Regions from separate parts of the Homo sapiens genome. Here region 1 is linked to region 2. Evidence: fine-mapped expression QTL. A gene starts in region 2. The other region holds a variant in brackets. All regions are shown on one strand. Distances are from middle to middle. Region 1 has its middle 71 kb from the start of SLF2. Region 2 holds the start of MRPL43 (mitochondrial ribosomal protein L43).

Region 1 (8,649 bases), 150 kb after region 2:
AGAGGAGTTCAATACCAACCTGGGCAACATAGTGAGACCCCCATCTCTAAAAAAAAAAAAAAATTAAAATTGGCCAGGCATGGTGGCCCCTGCCTGTAGTCCCAGCTACTTGGGAGACTAAAGTGGGAGAATCCCTTAAACACAGGAGTTTGAGGTTACAGTGAATCTTGGGCAACAGACGGAGACCCTGTCTCTAAAACAAACACATAAATAAATATTTAAAAAGGAATATCTGCTCACTGAAAAAAATTCAAATGATAAACAGCTCTCTTCTATCAAATAAGAATAAAACTAGCACACACTTCATCGATTTGCTATGAGGATTAAATGAGTGTAAAGTGTTTAGAGCAGCGCATGGCATAAGTTTGTAAGATAAAAATAAAAATAAAACTGTTTAAAAAGGAAAAAAGCTCTTTTCCTCACCTCTCCCATCTCTATATCAGTCATATGTTTCAGAGGTAGCCATATTATTAATTTATTGTGTATATTTCTAAAATTTTAAAAAATTTTCTAAAAAATTTAAAGTAATGTACTTACATGAAGCAAGTGTGGCAAAATTTTGATAAATTGCTAATTCTGAGGGATTAGAATATGAGAGTTCATTGTACTATTTTCTCACTTTTGTGTATGTTTGAATTTTTCATTAAAAGTTAAATATAGGCCAGGCGTGGTGGCTCATGCCTGTAATCCCAGCACTTTGGGAGGCCGAGGTCAGATCACCTGAGGTCAGGAGTTTGAGACCAGCCTGGCTAACATGGCGAAACCCTGTCTCTACTAAAAATACAAAAAAAATTAGCCAGGCATTGTGGCGGGCTCCTGTACCCAGCTACTCAGGAGGCTGAGGCAGGAGAATCTCTTGAACCTGGAAGGTGGGTTGCAGTGAGCCAAGATGGCAGCACTGCACTCCAGCCTGGATAACAGAGTGAAACTCTGTCTCCAAAAAAAATATATAAAAAATAAAAATAAAATAAAAATAAATAAATAAAAGTTAAATATAGTTGGCTGCGAGTGGTAGCTCACACCTGTAATCCCAGTACTTTGGGAGGCTGAGGCGGGAGGATGGGTTGAGCCCAAGAGTTTGAGACCAGCCTGGGCAATATAGCAAGACCTCATCTCTACAAAAAATCAAAAACTTAGCCAGGCGTGGTGGTGTGTCGCTGTAGTCCCAGCTACTTGGGAGGATGAGGCAAGAAGAACACTTGAACCCATGAGGTTAAGGCTTCAGTGAGCCATGATTGTGACCCTGCCTCAAAAAAAAAAAAGTTATATACAGTTGACCATTGAACACTGCAGGGGCTGGAGTGCGGACCCATGATGTAGTTGAAAATCCATGTGTAACTTTTCAAATGGCCAAAAAACATGAAAAAAATGCTCAACATCACTAATGATCAAGGAAATGCAAATCAAAACCACTATATGATACCACCTTACTTCCACAAGAATGGCCATAATAAAAAAAATTTAAAAAATAGATGTTGGCATGGATAAGGTGAAAAGGGAACACTTCTACACTGTTGGTGGGAACGTAAACTAGTACAACCACTATGGAAAACAGTGTGGAGATTCCTTAAAGAACTAAAAGTAGAACTACCATTTGACTCAGAAATCCCACAACTGGGTATCTACCCAGAGGAAAAGAAGTCATTGTTGAAAAAGGTACTTGCACACACATGTTTATAGCAGCACAATTCACAATTGCAAAAATGTGGAACCAACTCAAATGCCCACCAATCAACGAATGGATAAAGAAACTGTGGTACATATATGACGGAATACTGCTCAGCCATAAAAAGAAATGAATTAACAGCATTTGCAGCAACCTGGATGGGATTGGAGACTATTATTCTAAGTGAGTAACTCAGGAATGGAAAACCAAACGTTGTATGTTCTCACTCATAGGTGGGAGCTAAGCTATGAGGATGCAAACGCATAAGAATTATACAGTGGACTTTGGGGACTCAGGGGCAAAGGGTGAGAAGGGGTGAGGGGTAAAAGACTACACATTGGGTTCAGTGTACACTGCTCGAGTGATGGGTGCACCAAAATCTCACAAATCACCACTAAAGAAACTTACTCATGTAACCAAATAGCACCTGTTCCCCCAAAATCTATGGACATAAATAATTAAAAAAAAAAATCTATGTATAACTTTTGACTCTCCCAAAACTTAACTACGAATAGCCTACTGTTGCCCAGAAGGCTTACCAATAACAAACTGTCGATTAACACATATTCTGTGTGTTATATGTATTATATACTGTATTCTTACAATAAAGTAAGCTAGAAAAAAGAAAATGCTATTAAGAAAATCATGAGGAAGAGAAAATATACTTACTATTCAATAAGTGGAAGTGGACCGTCATAAAAGTCTTCATCCTCGTTGCCTTCACACTGAGTAGGCTGAGGAGAAGGAGGGAGGAAAGGGGTTGGTCTTGCTGTCTCGGGGTGGCAGAGGTCAAAGATGTGGAGGACGCAGAACAGGAGGCAGGAAAGGCAAGCACATTCAGTGTAACTTTTTTGGAAAAATTCTGCATATAAATGGATCCATGCAGTTCAAACCTATGTTGTTCAAGGGTCAACTGTATTTACATAGCTCAAAAAGCAACCAAATACAAGGTTATAGTTGTCTTCTATTAAGTCCCTATAGGCAACCTTTTTGAAAATGATTAGTTACATCTTCTGATATGTACTTCCCTACTTCTGTGGCCATATCATGCTTATATTGCTATTTTTGACTTTTCACTTTATCTCTAATATTATAGATATCATATGTATTATGTGTACATATATCTATAAATATTCAGGAATTTTAACAATTATTATTCTCTGAATATACCTTAAAAACACACCCTGGCCAGGTGAGGTTGCTCACACCTGTAATCCCAGCACTCTGGGAGGCCGAGGCAGGTGGATCACGAGGTAAGGAGATTGAGACCAGCCTGGCCAACACGGTGAAACCCCGTCTCTACTAAAAACACAAAAAATTAGCCGGGCATGGTGGCACGCGCCTGTAGTCCCAGCTACTCGGGAGGCTGAGGCAGGAGAATTGCTTAAACCCGGGAGGCAGAGGCTGCAGTGAGTTGAGATCACACTACTGCACTCCAGCCCGGGCAACAGAGCGAGACTCTGTCTCAGAAAAAAACAAAACAAAACAAACCACACCCTGTCTTTTTTTCATGGATGTGTTTCTTATACCTCTCTGAGGTTATTAATTGCAGGTTTGTTTGTTTTTTTAAGCTTTCTTCTCTTCTCTGAATATTCTTTGATACTTTCAAGTTCTTTTTTTTTCTTGAGATGGAGTTTCTGTCATCCAGGCTGTAGTGCAGTGGTGCAATCTCGGCTCACGGCAACCTCCACCTCCTGAGTTCAAGTGATTCTCATGCCTCAGCCTCCTGAGTAGCTGGGATTACAGGCATGTATCACCATGCCCAGCTATTAACTAATTATTATAGAAGATGAGGATTGGGATCTCTTATGTCACCACCTATAATCATTTTGTCTTTGGCCCAATATATTTATATCACAATTTGGGGTAAAAATCAATCAATATATCACATTTATGTATATAAGTGTGTAAATTTTTTTTTGAGATGGAGTCTTGCTCTGTTACCCAGGCTGGAGTGCAGTAGCTCAATCTCAGCTCAATGCAAGCTCCGCCTCCTGGGTTCAAGCAATTCTTCTGCCTCAGCCTCCTGAGTAGCTGGAATTACAGTCACCTGCCACCACGCCTGGCTAATTTTTGTATTTTTAGTAGAGACGGAGTTTCACCAAGATGGCCAGGCTGGTCTCGAACTCCTGACCTCAGGTCATCCACCCACCTTGGCCTCCCAAAGTGCTGGGATTAGGGGCGTGAGCCACTGTGCCCGGCCTGGTCTTTATCTTTTATGTTAGAAACTTGTCCTAAATCATTAGCATCTTTTCCTGTCCATCAATACACA[A/G]AGGTAGGGCACTAAATGACCGCTTGAAAGCTCTGTGCTAATTTTAGGACCTGTTGATTAGTGGACATCACTGAAGAATGATCAGTTGGAGACCCGGATGTTTTGTGGGGGGACTCTGATTGTCAGTATTTAGAGGTCTTTTTTGGGGGGCTGGTCAGTTTGTTCAGTTTCCAGCTTGGAGGGCTGAACAATGGAAGACAGCTGCCAGCTTTCTGAAGTTCAAGATGGGGGAGATAGCTACTCCCCAAATTTAACCAGCTCATTTCAATATAACATGGGTTAAACATTGAAAACTTCAAACATATATAAAAGTAGAGAGGAGTATAATGAACCCAGCTCCAACGGTTATCAATTTATGGCCAGTCTTATTCTATATATTCCTCAGCCAACTCTACCCCCTAGATTATTTGATAGCAAATCCAAGATATCACATCATTTAATTTATAAATATTTCAGTTTATATTTTTAAAGTAAATGACTTTAAAATAACCATAATATCACTAGCACATCTAAAAACTTAATAGTGTCCAGTTAATGCAGTGCTTACATGTCCCTGATTGCCTCATAACATCTTCTACTCTTCTTTCTCTTCCTCCTCTTCCTGCTCCTTCTCCTCCTTTTAATTACTTGCAAGATTCAAATATAATGCAATTAGTTGATATATCTCTCAAGTCTGTTTTAGTCTATCCATTTTTTTCTCTCTTTCAATTTTTTAATTGAGGAAGCCAGGATATTTACCCATAACCTGGAGTTTTTGGATTGCATCCTTGAGGTTCCTCTGCTCACAGTATTTTCTGCAAGATAGTAGTTACATCTATAGGCTTGATTAGATTTAGATTAGATTTTTTTTGAAATATCACTTTATTTATTTATTTATTTATTTATTTATTTATTTATTTATTTAAGATAGAGTCTCTCCCTGTTGCCCAGGCTGGAGTACAGTGGCGTGATCTTGGCTCACTGCAACCTCGGCCTCCTGGATTCAACCCAAGGTATATATAGCTCATATAAGAAAGGCAGTAGAAATGCTTGGTTTTTTTTTTCGATCAGTTTACCAAATTATGAGTTGGCTCTCTACCATCCTTCAAAGAAGATTAGTAAGGTTTTTCTTTTAAGTATAATGATTATTCATGGATTTAAATTTATTAGATGAGTTTCAATCAATTGCAGTTATTATAAACACTGATGCTCAATTGTATCATCTTTGGCAAATGGGAGCCTGTAATTAGTGCACAAGTCCTTTTGAAATGACCCTAGTAGTCTTTCATAGCTTCCTCGCTTTCTGGTATAAGATTTCCAGAATGATCTTGTACATGTCCTGTTTCAGATCTGAAATTTTTCATTTCCCCCAAAGAGCCCTGGTTCTTTTTAATGCAAAATGGTATTTAAAGACCACAGTCTGGAGACTAGAGGTGCTTATTGCTACTGAGTTGGTTGGTTTCTTGTCTTTTTCAATGCATAAAGCCATGAAATACATTTTTTAAAGATAAAATACATCAACAGTTATTACTGATACTTCCAAATCAAATGCAAGACTATGGGGATTTTACTAATCACCACTGATCTTCCATCTGTTTTTGTTTGTTTATTTCTCCCTTACCAAAAAACTCTAAGAACATCAATCTCATTACTTATTGGCTTTATTAGTGTATATCCCACTAGGGATGTATGTAGAGTCAATTACTGGATTTTAAATTACTTGAAATAGTTTATCTATGTGATTATAATACCAACTTAGTAGATAAGTTCATTTGTTTCATTTTGCTTTTGATTTTTTATGGATTACTTATTTACATACTTGATTTTATTGTGTTATTATATAAAGTATCTATATGGTTTTAATCTATTTTTAAAAATCTATTGAAAATTTATACTCAGTGATGTCTACCTTCTACCCCATCCTCTTCACTTTGTTTCCTCCTTTCTCCAATAATTATTTTTAAAATATTTTGTTTATCTTTTCATTTCAAGAAATGTAAGCAAATAAGAATATATATTCATATCCATCCTTTCTTTCTTAAACACTTGCCCATTACACACATTTTAATCCACCTTAATATTGACCTTTTAAAAAATGTATGTCTAGGAATATGTCACTTGTTTATCCTTTGGCTCAACCTGCTCCCTGGTTTTTTTCTCACTGGTTTGTCACACACTTCTAAAAGCAGATACCCAATGACAAGAGCAAGAATGTGCTTTAAAGGCAGATGTGGATCTGAGTCTGAATTCCAGCTCTGCCCTTTACTTGCTATGTGACTTTAGACAAATATGTTTAATCTCTCTGGGTCTCATTGTCTTCATCTGTAAAACGAATAAGATAAAACCTTCTTCCTTGGGTTATGGTGAATAATCTGCAGAAGAACAGTGCCCAGCACATAGTAAAGATCAGATATGTGAGTTGTTTTCAATTGTGTTACTCTGGGTTTTCTTTTATATTCTTGTCAATGTGATGATTCCAAGAATCTTACAAGTACTGAATATGATTTGCCCTATTTCAGCTCCTGAAGGAGCAGACACCTCTCAGGCTAAGTGAACAGTCAAGAGCACTGAAAGGGGTCAGGGCTGCTCAGATAGTATCCACAGTTGGGGGCTGGCTTGCTTTGATCCTGGCCAGCCTAACAGAGCTATGTCCTGTTCTGCAAAGCCACCACCACTTCTTGCCTTCCTTCTTTTCTTTTCCCCTTCCCTTCCCTTTCCTTTCCTTTCTCCTTCCTTCCTTCCCTTCCTCCCTCCCTCCCTCCCTCCCTCCCTCCCTTCCTTCCTTCCTTCCTTCCTTCCTTCCTTCCTTTTTTTTTGTTTTTAGAGTCTCACTCACTCTGTCACCTAGGCTAGAGTGCAATGGCACGAACTCGGCTTACTGTAACCTCCGCCTCCTGAGTTAAGTGATTCTAGTGCCTCAGCCTCCTGAGTAGCTGGGATTACAGGCGTGCACCACCACACCTGGCTAATTTTTGTATTTTTTAGTAGAGACAGGATTTCACCATGTTTGGCCAGGCTGATCTTGAACTCCTGATCTCAAGTGATCCACCTGCCTCAGCCTTCCAAAGTACTGGGGTTACAGGCGTCAGCCACTGTGCCCAGCCCCCAGTTTTCTTTCTCGGCTGAGCTCTTTCCTATCCCAGGCTGCAACATCCTTCCAGAAGCTTCTTCCAGCCTCTGCAGCATCCTGAGGAAGCTTCCTTTTAAACTTGGAAAGGGCTTTCTTACTCTATTCTCAGAGCCCTGGGGCTTAGGTTAAGAGCTCCATCCTCTTCCCTTCCACTGCCTTTGAGGTTTTATGATCATGTGACATCATTACCACACTCTGCCATCATGTGATTGCATCATTATATCGGTAACCATTACTAAGTTAACACAATTACACTGTCAGATTGTCATATCAAGTTGCTGGGTTGTGTGCCTTGTTACAGTCATTTCAACACTACAATATCACTGATTACATGGTTACCTCATTATAGCCCAGTACTGTTAACCTATAGTGCACCGACCCATCATTTCCTGGCTGACAGTAGCAAATTGCCATATGGTTATACTGTTTTTGGATTACATCGTTACAGCCCTACACTACACTATCACTTGTATCTTGGCAGTGATACATCATCTTTACTGTGCTATGGTATTATAGGATTATTTTGGGTTAATACTATACTGTTACTTTGTTACAGAATTAAATTGGCCCATCCAAACTGCAATGCAAAACTGGAGACTAGGAGAGTGGGGCAGGAGGGTATATCTCCCCATTCTACATCCAGAGGCCAATTTACTCCCCTGAGCTACTTCCCTGTAATTCTGTCTATTGGCCATCATGCCCTGGCATGTCAAACTCAGGCACAAATACTCAATATGCAAAGGCATGTCATGATCTCTAGCCCCAAGTTAGCGTCTCTTCTTACCTCTGCTGGTGGCCCATCAGCTGCCAGGCTCTTGGAACACCCTTGGAGGCAATCATCTTTGCCCTATCTCTCCTCCTCACCTTCATAACCAATTGGCAGCCAAGTCCAGATATGCTACCTCAGTGAGGCTACCACCAGGCCTTCTTGGGCCAGACACTTGGAGATGGAGCCCACCCAGCTTACCTGTCCCCCTCTGTCCCTCAGGGAGACTTCCTTATCACAGATCTTCCTTCCACAGGTCAACCTGCATCTCTCTCTCTCTCTCACTCTCACTCCATTTCATCCCCCATCTCATCATTGCACTAGCCTTCTAATAGTCTCCCTGCCTCAAACTTTCCCTTCAACCACCTTGTCTGGCAGCTAGAATTAACTTGTAAATAAAACTTTGCATCAGGTCACCTTAGAAGTAGTCAGTGCCCTCCCCCCAGTTAAGGATAGGAAAATGGTCAAACAGTCTGGCATTGATTGCCCTTCACAAACTGGTCTCCCTGGCCCTCATCTCTCTCATCCAGTCAGTACCCAAGTCTTGTCAGTTCAACCTCCAGCAAATATATGAGTATCAGTTTTGGAAAGTTCCCTTTCCAACTATTACCCAATATTTCCAACTATTACTTCTCCCTTGAACAACCCCATGCTTCAGCCAGCCCATGTTTGCACAGAGCCTGCTTCTTTCAGACCCCACTTCCCTACTCTTCTGGGAAGTCCTCCTAACCATTCTCTCTGCCATTCTACTCTGCAGCCCTCAGCAGCCTCTCCCTCGTCTGAGCCCACAAGGCACAGCTGATTTGGGTCAGTTTGATGGGCTCACAAATATTCTC
Region 2 (8,649 bases):
GGCACATGCCTGTAGTCCCAGCTACTTGGGAGGCTGAGGCAGGAGAATCACTTGAACCTGGGAGGTGGAGCTTGCAGTGAGCCGAGATCGCGCCACTGCACTCCAGCCTGGGTGACAAAGCGAGACTCCGTCTCAAAAAAAAAAAAAAAAAAAAAAAAAAGATAGGGTCTCACTCTGCTGCCCAGGTTGGAGTGGAGTGCAGTGGTGTGAGCACGGCTCACTGCAGTCTCAACCTCCCAGGCTCAAGCAATCCTCCCACCTCAGCCTCCTGAGTAGCTGGGACCAAAGGTGCATGCTACCATGCCCAGCTAATTTTTAAATATATATATATTATATATATATATTTTTTGAGACGGAGTCTCACTCTGTCACCCAGGATGGAGTGCAGTGGCGCGATCTCCGCTCACTGCAAGCTCCGCCTCCCGGGTTCACGCCATTCTGCCTCAGCCTCCCAAGTAGCTGGGACTACAGGTGCCTGCCACCACGCCCGGCTAATTTTTTTTTTTTTTTGTATTTTTAGTAGAGACAGGGTTTCACCATGTTAGCAAGATAGTCTCGATCTCCTGACCTCGTGATCCACCCGCCTTGGCCTCCCAAAGTGCTGGGATTATAAGCGTGAGCCACCACGCCTGGCCAATTTTCAAATATTTTTGTAGAGACAGGGTCTCACTACATTGCTCAGATTGCCAAACTCCTGGGCCCCAGCAATCCTCCTGCCTCAGCCTCCCAAAGTGTTGAGATTACAGGTGTGATCCACTGTACCCTGCCATTTTTCCACTTCTGCATTACTCTCTTTCCCAGCTCCATGTTTGTTCCATCATGGCACATGATTTGTGCTCCTTGCTCTGAATTCCCTAGGCCCAGCCCAGGCCTCGTATGTAATAGGCATTCAGTGTAACACTAGAAGCTCCAGGATTGGGCTGGTCCTGATGCCCAGAAGGCCCTCACATTTATCTGATTGTCTAATACCCATTGTCTACCAAACCTCAACCCAACCTTTGTTGTCACCTCCTCTGGAAGTCTCCCAGATGTCCCGGGCTGACTCAGACATCTTTTCTCTTTGCTCTCCAAATACTTGTGCTGCCTATCATACTCTTATCATACTGAATTGCAATCACTGTCTTACTGTTTCCCCAGGAGAGGATGTGAGCTCCTGGGGGACAAGAAGAGCATAAGAACCAACTATCAGCCTTTGTATTTCCAGCACATATATTCCTCATGTCATGGCCCCAGAGGCATTGCCTCCTGCCTGTTCGGATGGACAGTCAAGACGATTAAGGCTGAATGAGGGCTGTCCCTGGTCACACCTACCCACTCTATTTTCCAAAGCTTGAGCTCCGCTAAAGGCCACTCACTTTGGCTGAGCCAAAAATGGACGCTGTCTGCAGTTCCTTGTCATCATCCTCTTTCCGGGGGTGAATGACCAGTGTCACATGGCAGTTATTGTCTGTTGCAAACTTCCGAAAGACCCCGATGATGTAGTCTTGAGCTGCGATCCTACGCCATCCCAACAACACAAAGAGCTTATCAGACACAGAAGGACAAGAACATACACATACTCTTGATCCATTCACATCTCCCCACAAACTACCACAACCCACTCTACCTCCCTCTACCCAAGGACTCACACTCAGATCCCTGTCCATACATCCTGCTGCCATACCCCACACCTCCATATGATACACATGGGGGTGGTACGTGCCTGCACACATCTCAGAAAATAGGAGAGCACAGCATGTGTGCCTAGAGGCCAGCTGCCTGAGAAGTGTGTGTTGTATGTCCAAGCGGGCTCAAGCTAGACAAGAGAGGATGTCACCGTCACCTGTCTGTGGACAGCTGCTCGTGACCCATCATGAACTGCAGGTTGTCGATGATCACATGACAAATGTCATAGACGTAGACTGCATGTTGCATTGTATCTATTACAGTCCTGGGAAGAGGAAAGGCAAGGAATTTGACAAGTTGTCTCTAGACCACCCCAGGCAGAAGAACTAGCATCCTGAAAACTCTCTTGGCTGCCTCCTCTGCCCTTCTATTATTATTACTATTATTTGAGACAAGGTCTTGCTCTGTAGCCCAGGCTGGAGTGCAGTGGTGTGATCACAGCTCACTGCAGCCCCAACCTACTAGGCTCAAGCGATCCTCTTACTTTAGCTTCTTGAGTAGCTGGGACCACAGGCATATGCCATCACCATGCCCAGCCTAATTTTTAAAAATTTTTTTATAGAGAGGGGTGGTCTCCCTATATTGCCCAGGTTGGTCTCAAATCCCTGGGCTCAAGTGATCCTCCCACCTCAGCCTCCCAAAGTGCTGGGATTACAGGCGTGAGCCAGTGTGTCCAGCCCTGCCCTCTCATTCTTTGAAAAACTCCAAACCTAAGGAGATGGGGGAGTTCCTACTGGAGCTGGAAAAGGAACCAAAGGTTCCTGAGTGCTGGGATATGTCTGGGAAAGCAAGGTGGCTGGAATCTGGGAGTCTCACCTGATGCTTTGCTGTCCATGGAAAGTCATGAAATAGAGGGGCAGGTCCTCAAAGCGGTCAGCCCAGTGATCATATTTGTCCAGTTGATCTTCCAGCCGCCCCTCGGCAAACTGTGTCAGCATGACCCGGGCTAGTCTCACATTGCTGATCTCGAAGCTACCCCACAGTGTGTTCACCCCCTGGGAACACAAATCCAGGGCATACTCACTGATGAATGTCGTCTTTCCACTGCCTGTTGGCCCTGCAGTGGGGTGGAACAGACCTGGGTGAGGAGGAAGTCCTACCCTTGAAACCAAGACATAGGTCAGGGCTTTAAAACTGGGGGGAAAGGGCCAACCTTCTTTTCAACATTGTCATGGCCCAAACCCACTTGCTTTTGTCACCTGATCTTCTGCCCCTTTACTCTAAGTAGTGATTTCTCAAAGGGTTACCTGTGAAGACCGTCAGCTCGCCCTTTCGATGTCCCTTCAAGATACGATTGAGGTCTGGAAAGCGGCTCCAGCGGAGGCCAGCTGCTTGCTCCACATTTGACAGTTCTCCTAGCACCTCCTCCCGAAGCTGCCGGAAAGATACGATGGACTTGTGCCAGGCAGGCAGGGCGGTACGAAGAATACGAGAAAGATTGAAGCCTCCGTTCAGGGCCTCCAGGGGACGGGGTTGCTGGTCTCCTGGTCGCACCAAGAAGCATCGTTTGGGGTTCAGTTTTCGTGCAAACAACTTGGCGGCTTCCCAGGACCGAAGGTCATCCCCCAACCAGAATACAATCCGCCGGAACTGTTCCAGGTAAGGGAGTAAGGCAGGGGGTAAGCAGGTCGTTCCTCGGGGTAGAGTAAGGGTAGGCAGCCCCGTGGACTGGTTCAAGGCCAGGCTGTCAAGCTCACGACTCGTCAGTACCACCTCAGCATCTCGACGACTAATCAGTGGTAATCCAAACAGATTGTGGTAGGCGCTGGGTCGGGGAATAGTGGTTTCCTCGTAGCTCACTCCATCCCCCTGGCATTTAGCCTCTAGGAGCTTCAGGCCTCGTAATCCTGAGCCCCCAGGGGAGAACCAAGGGAAGACAAGACTGCGAGCAGGTCGCAGATATCGCACACTGAAACGCTTGAGTGTGTCATCTGTAACCTTGGTAAGGCCAAACATTGTATCAGCCAGCTGAACCTCCTCCTGATCAGGCAGCTCCCAGAGAGGTATTGCTCGGTTCCAGATCCTCCGGACCTCCTCGCTGTCCTCAAATTCTGGTGCCTTGCTAAGCAGAAACCCCTCCCTGGCCCCATCCCCTCGCCCCTCCACGCTGGCCTGGAAGTCTTCCCAGCTCCCTTCTGCTAGGCTGGTCATGCAGAGAAAGTGGCCTGTGGTCTTGTCAATGAAGAGGCTGAAGGAAGTGGTAACACCAGTCTGGCCTTTGAGCTGTGAAGACTCTGCAAAGGGGCTCAGTGCCCGCAGGCAACTGTGACCATCCTGGAAGGGGATCCCATGCCCCCGCAAATACTGGCGGATTTCAGTTGCAGTTACAGGCAACACTGGCATATCCAAGGCTTGGAGAGTCTCCTTCCTGTAACGTCTGCGAGGAGGGCCTGGGGCCAAGTTTCGGGGCAGGCCCCTCCGACCCATCCACTCCCCACGCAGGGGTAACAAGATACGGAGGGGGTACCCACTTCGGAGGAGGACCCACATTCCTAGCCAAATGTGGGAAGTCACTACTTGAAATGCCTTAGGTGCCTGGTTAGCGTGCCTTCACTAGACCAAACTCTAGGGATATCCCACGCAGCACTCTGCAGAGCTCACTCTAGGTGCATTCTTTCTCTCCATGAATTTCTCCTCTTCAGCCCCTCTACGTTGCTGCTTCACACATATGCCCATCTACACGACCCTTTCGCGTCCACGTCCTTCTACAATGGCTCCCCCACCTCTATGGTCCGTTAGTTAGTTTCTCTCCGCCACCTCACCTCTATGACCCTCTATACAGTTCCTCACTGACACAGTTTCTTTGCATCATCTTCTCACCTCTACTGCTCCTCCACAGCATCTCCTCGTCGTCCTCATTTCTATAGTCATCTGCATCCTTTTTGTAGTCCCTTTGCCCTAGGCCCCGACTAGAGACCCTCTTCCGCTTCTCCTTCCCCTCACTGGGACCTCAACACGGCGAGAGCACCCAGCACGACTCCCGCCAATCCCCCGGCCCAAAGGAATGCCAGTCTCTATCCTCCCCCGTGTCTTCACTCCGCTCTACTACTCCGAGCTCCGCCGCGCCGGCCCCCAGCCCCAGGTTACCACTTTTCTCTCTCCCACTTCGCCGGCAACGTGAGTCTCCCGCACATGCTACTCGCCTTGACCTCGGAAGCAAAACTCCGGGAGCGGTCGTCCCGGAACCGGAAGCCTCGAGGTTTAGTCCCGCCCCCCTCTCCTCGCTGCTTAGGCTCCGCGGCCTCCAAGCTGTAGCTATGACGGCGCGCGGGACTCCGAGCCGCTTCTTGGCCAGCGTTCTCCACAACGGACTGGGTCGCTATGTGCAGCAGCTGCAGCGTCTGAGCTTCAGCGTCAGCCGCGACGGCGCCTCGTCTCGCGGCGCCAGGTGAGCCAAGGGAAGTGCGCAGGCGCGGGTCGGGGTGGGTGTGGAGGTGGCAACGACTCCCCGGGTAGGTCGCCCCCAGTCAGGGGTCATACTGCTCACTGTCCCGGGTCGCTTAGGGAGTTCGTGGAGCGGGAGGTGATCGACTTCGCCCGACGGAATCCAGGGGTCGTAATATATGTAAACTCGCGTCCGTGCTGCGTGCCCAGAGTAGTGGCCGAATACCGTGAGTGGGGCCGGGCTCGGGCTGGAGGGCGGGATCAGGGGCTCGACCCGCTATCCTCCTTCTCGCTTGGTCGCACCGGCCAGCTTCCACCCACTCTCACCCCTCTTCTGCCAGTTAACGGGGCTGTGCGCGAGGAGAGCATCCACTGCAAGTCGGTCGAGGAGATCTCGACGCTGGTGCAGAAGCTGGCCGACCAGTCGGGCTTGGACGTGATCCGCATCCGCAAGCCCTTCCACACCGACAACCCTAGCATCCAGGGCCAGTGGCACCCCTTCACCAACAAGCCGACCACGTTCCGCGGGCTACGCCCCCGAGAGGTTCAGGATCCTGCCCCAGCCCAGGTGCAAGCACAGTGAAGAGTTGCCCCACCAACTGCAGCCCCAGGCTTTGGACTGTTACTCCGGTAAAGGTGGTTCTTCCCCTTTGGGATTCCAAGCCCAGGCAAATGGAACCCATCAATGGGCAAGTTGACAGAGGTTCTGCTTGGGATAATGAAGAGCTGCCTGTTTCTTTCCAGTGCCTGCTTCTGGGGGCAGTGACCTTGTGAACCACTCATTTTTATGCAAGTGGCATCCCTAAAACCTGAGATGAGGAAGACTTCAAGGGTTTTACAGGGCCCTTGTTTTTTAAATCCAAATTGATAATAATGATCTCAAAACACAGTGAGAGGTCTGAAGGCTGGCTTCTGAAGAATCCCTGATGTCTTATTGGAACAACCACTGAGCTACGGAGAGCTCTGCTGTGATGGGCTAGGCACTTTATATCTGTGTGAATACAGATTTATAAAACAGGTTAATAAACTTATCCAAGGTCACATTTCAGGTCTGTCTTCAAAATGTGTGCATATGTTAAGCACAAGCCTCAGTTTTCATTATTTTAAAACTAGACGCAGAACATATAACAACTGTCAGGTGGTTAGTATCAAAGGCCAAGTGATTAATCTAGGCCTGACCCCTGAAAGGGAGAGGGGAGTGATTCTCAGACCAAGTCCTGGCTGACAAGCTTTCTCTGGTCTTAGCTATACATCTCCTTCCCCCCACGTCCCTCTTTGTGCAGAAATAAAATCCATGTCCCTTGAGCCAGCTGGTGGGGGGTGCTGAGAACCTTGGGGAAGGGCAGGAAGGCTGATATTAATGAGTATTTTCTAATCTTAGTTTAAAAAGGGGGGATGGTGGGGAAATGAGAGGCAGGAAATGAAAATCTAGAAACCCCTGTAAGAATTCTTGAACTGTTGTCATTTTCTTGTCATGCCCTAACACCATGATCAATGAATAGTGTGAACCTTACTAAAGAGGCCTGTGTGCCTGCCAAGGAGTCAGGATGGAAGCGGAGGATCCCAATTTCCTCTGCAAATAGTTGTATTGGGGAGCAGAGCCAATCCTGGAGGCAGATATCACCTTCTGTATAGGCTCAGGAGCCTGTCCCCTGGTGATCAGGGGTGGGCGCATCTAGATGAAGCAGACTAGTCATAGCTGTGGGGAAAAAGGGTGTTTATTAACCAACGGCAGGGGGAGGAGCTGAGCCCAGGCTCCCCACTCTGTCACATGCCTGTTCCACCCACCTGGTTGTAAGTGGGGGCATTCCTAAAGAAGTGTAGCCATTCTCACAATAAATACATTCATTGTGGGGTGGAGGTGGGAGAGGTTGGGTGAAGGGCAGTAAAAACCCGTGGGATTCCACGTTCTCAGCTACAAAAATAACAGTCATCCTCACCCGAGGGGAATGGGGGAGCTCAGTCAGAATTGATTGTCCCATATAGGCCTAGAGACTTCAGAGGCCCCTGGCCCCTGAAAGTGCCCCGGTGAGGTAGGACAGGGGTAGGAGCTAAGCGTCCAAACTCCCAGCCTCTGCCCTTTGCATAGTTCCAAGAATGGGCTTCATGTGCCAGTTGAGACATCAGATTTCTCCTCCCTTTCCCTGCTGTAGTCTAGAGGAAGCAAATGCTTGATTCCCCCAAAAGAGAGGCTGGCTCATTGAGTGCAGTGTTGGTCATCCATCCTAGGCAAGGGCCTGTGAGGACAGTTAAATGGGAGGGGGATCTCCCTCTGAAATGTCCACGGACTAAACCCAACAGACAGGTCCAAGACAGCAAGGGAGGCTCAGAGGTGCATGTGAGTGGAAATGTAAGCACATGTGTGATACAGGTGTGTGTTACCACATGTGCATGGGGATGGGACATGCCTGGAGCTCTGTCTCTCATACTCTTGAGAATGACCAAGGAGAGTGGGGAGGCTGATTCACAAGGGCCACACAGGAAGGGAGAGGAGGGGAGTGATGCAGTCTTACCTCCCCAGGCTGGCCCGTTCCCAAGCTCTTGACAAAGAGGTCACCACATGGGGCTGGGGAAGAGGACCAGATAGGATGTGGCAATTGGGAGGGTACCCCAAGTCCAGAAGCAGGGATGAAACAAGAATGCACCAGGAGAAGGTGAGGGTGGGGGCACTGCAGCCCAGCCGATAAACATTCTTCCATGTGTGCATGTGAATGTACGCAGGGCTTAGGTGGCTGGCAGAGGTCTTGTCTGGTTTCAGGACCATCCAGCACACAGGGCCATGCAGAGGGTGGTGACATTGAGCCCATATGGACCTGCAGAGCCCTGCCTGGGAGAAAGAGAAAGGGTTTGGGCAGATGAATGGAACAGGAGGATGGAGTCCTCACCTATAAGTGTTTAGGTTAGGGGATAGGAACTGGCTCTGGGTCTGCAGGGCACCTGATCCTGAGGGAGCACCTACCTCTGAGGAGCACCGATGGGCCTGGGCTGCTCACATGTGGGTCTGTGGAGACTGAGGAGGGGGCTTTGGCTGGGCCTGACTGGCCAGCCCTACAGGGACATCAAAAAGTTGGGAGAAGGGTATGGAGTGGGGGTAATGAAGGGAGGGTGGCTGTGTTAGGGAGGCAGTGGCCCAGCCTGGGACAGATAGGCTGGCTTGGAAGAGCATTTGTTCTGGGAGGCTGGGCTCAGACAGAGCTCTCATCTAGCTGCTCCACGAGCTGCGTGTGCTTCCTTTTTTCCAGGATGCGGCTGAGTTCCTCGGCGAAGGAGCAGGGCCCTGCTGGTACTCCATTGTTGCTCTGCCTCAGAAGCACATAGCTATTGCCATTCATCCTCCGCAGCCGGCTGGGCAGTGCCACCAAGCCATTGGTCAGCTCAGCCGGTGGCGGTGGGGGCGGTGGGGGTGGTGGGGCTGGGGCTCCCTCCCCAGGGATGATCTGGAGACAGCTGCCCTCCAGGCCCCCAGCCCCCTCATCATCACCCTCATCTTCCTCTCCAGGACACTGGCCTGAGACTGTCTGCAGTTGCACCGCAGATCCTCCTGCCCGGCTGGCCCGACCCAGTGAGTATTTCCGTCGGCGCCCTCGTCTGCCTTCCCGC

The links. PIP is the estimated chance that this variant, and not a neighbour inherited with it, causes the effect.
Region 1: its variant is the best candidate, but not a certain one, in a credible set for the expression of MRPL43 in T cells (TOPMed, PIP 0.56).

The regions. Positions count from the first base shown.
Region 1 is chr10:100,837,877-100,846,525 of GRCh38, reverse strand. No RefSeq gene overlaps it. Among named protein-coding and RNA genes, the nearest start is that of SLF2, 71 kb to the left of the region's middle. The variant A/G (reference allele first, on the strand shown) is at 3,939.
Region 2 is chr10:100,983,717-100,992,365 of GRCh38, reverse strand. It overlaps MRPL43 (mitochondrial ribosomal protein L43), which reads left to right and starts at 4,869. Exons shown (of 3, transcript NM_032112.3): 1 at 4,869-5,053; 2 at 5,170-5,276; 3 at 5,391-6,097. The coding sequence starts at 4,923. The coding sequence ends at 5,632. It overlaps SEMA4G (semaphorin 4G), which reads right to left. Exons shown (of 15, transcript NM_017893.4): 15 at 6,750-8,649. The coding sequence ends at 8,235. It overlaps TWNK (twinkle mtDNA helicase), which reads right to left and starts at 4,823. Exons shown (of 5, transcript NM_021830.5): 1 at 2,913-4,823; 2 at 2,482-2,722; 3 at 1,823-1,930; 4 at 1,356-1,497. The coding sequence starts at 4,155. RefSeq lists an enhancer at 5,041-5,110.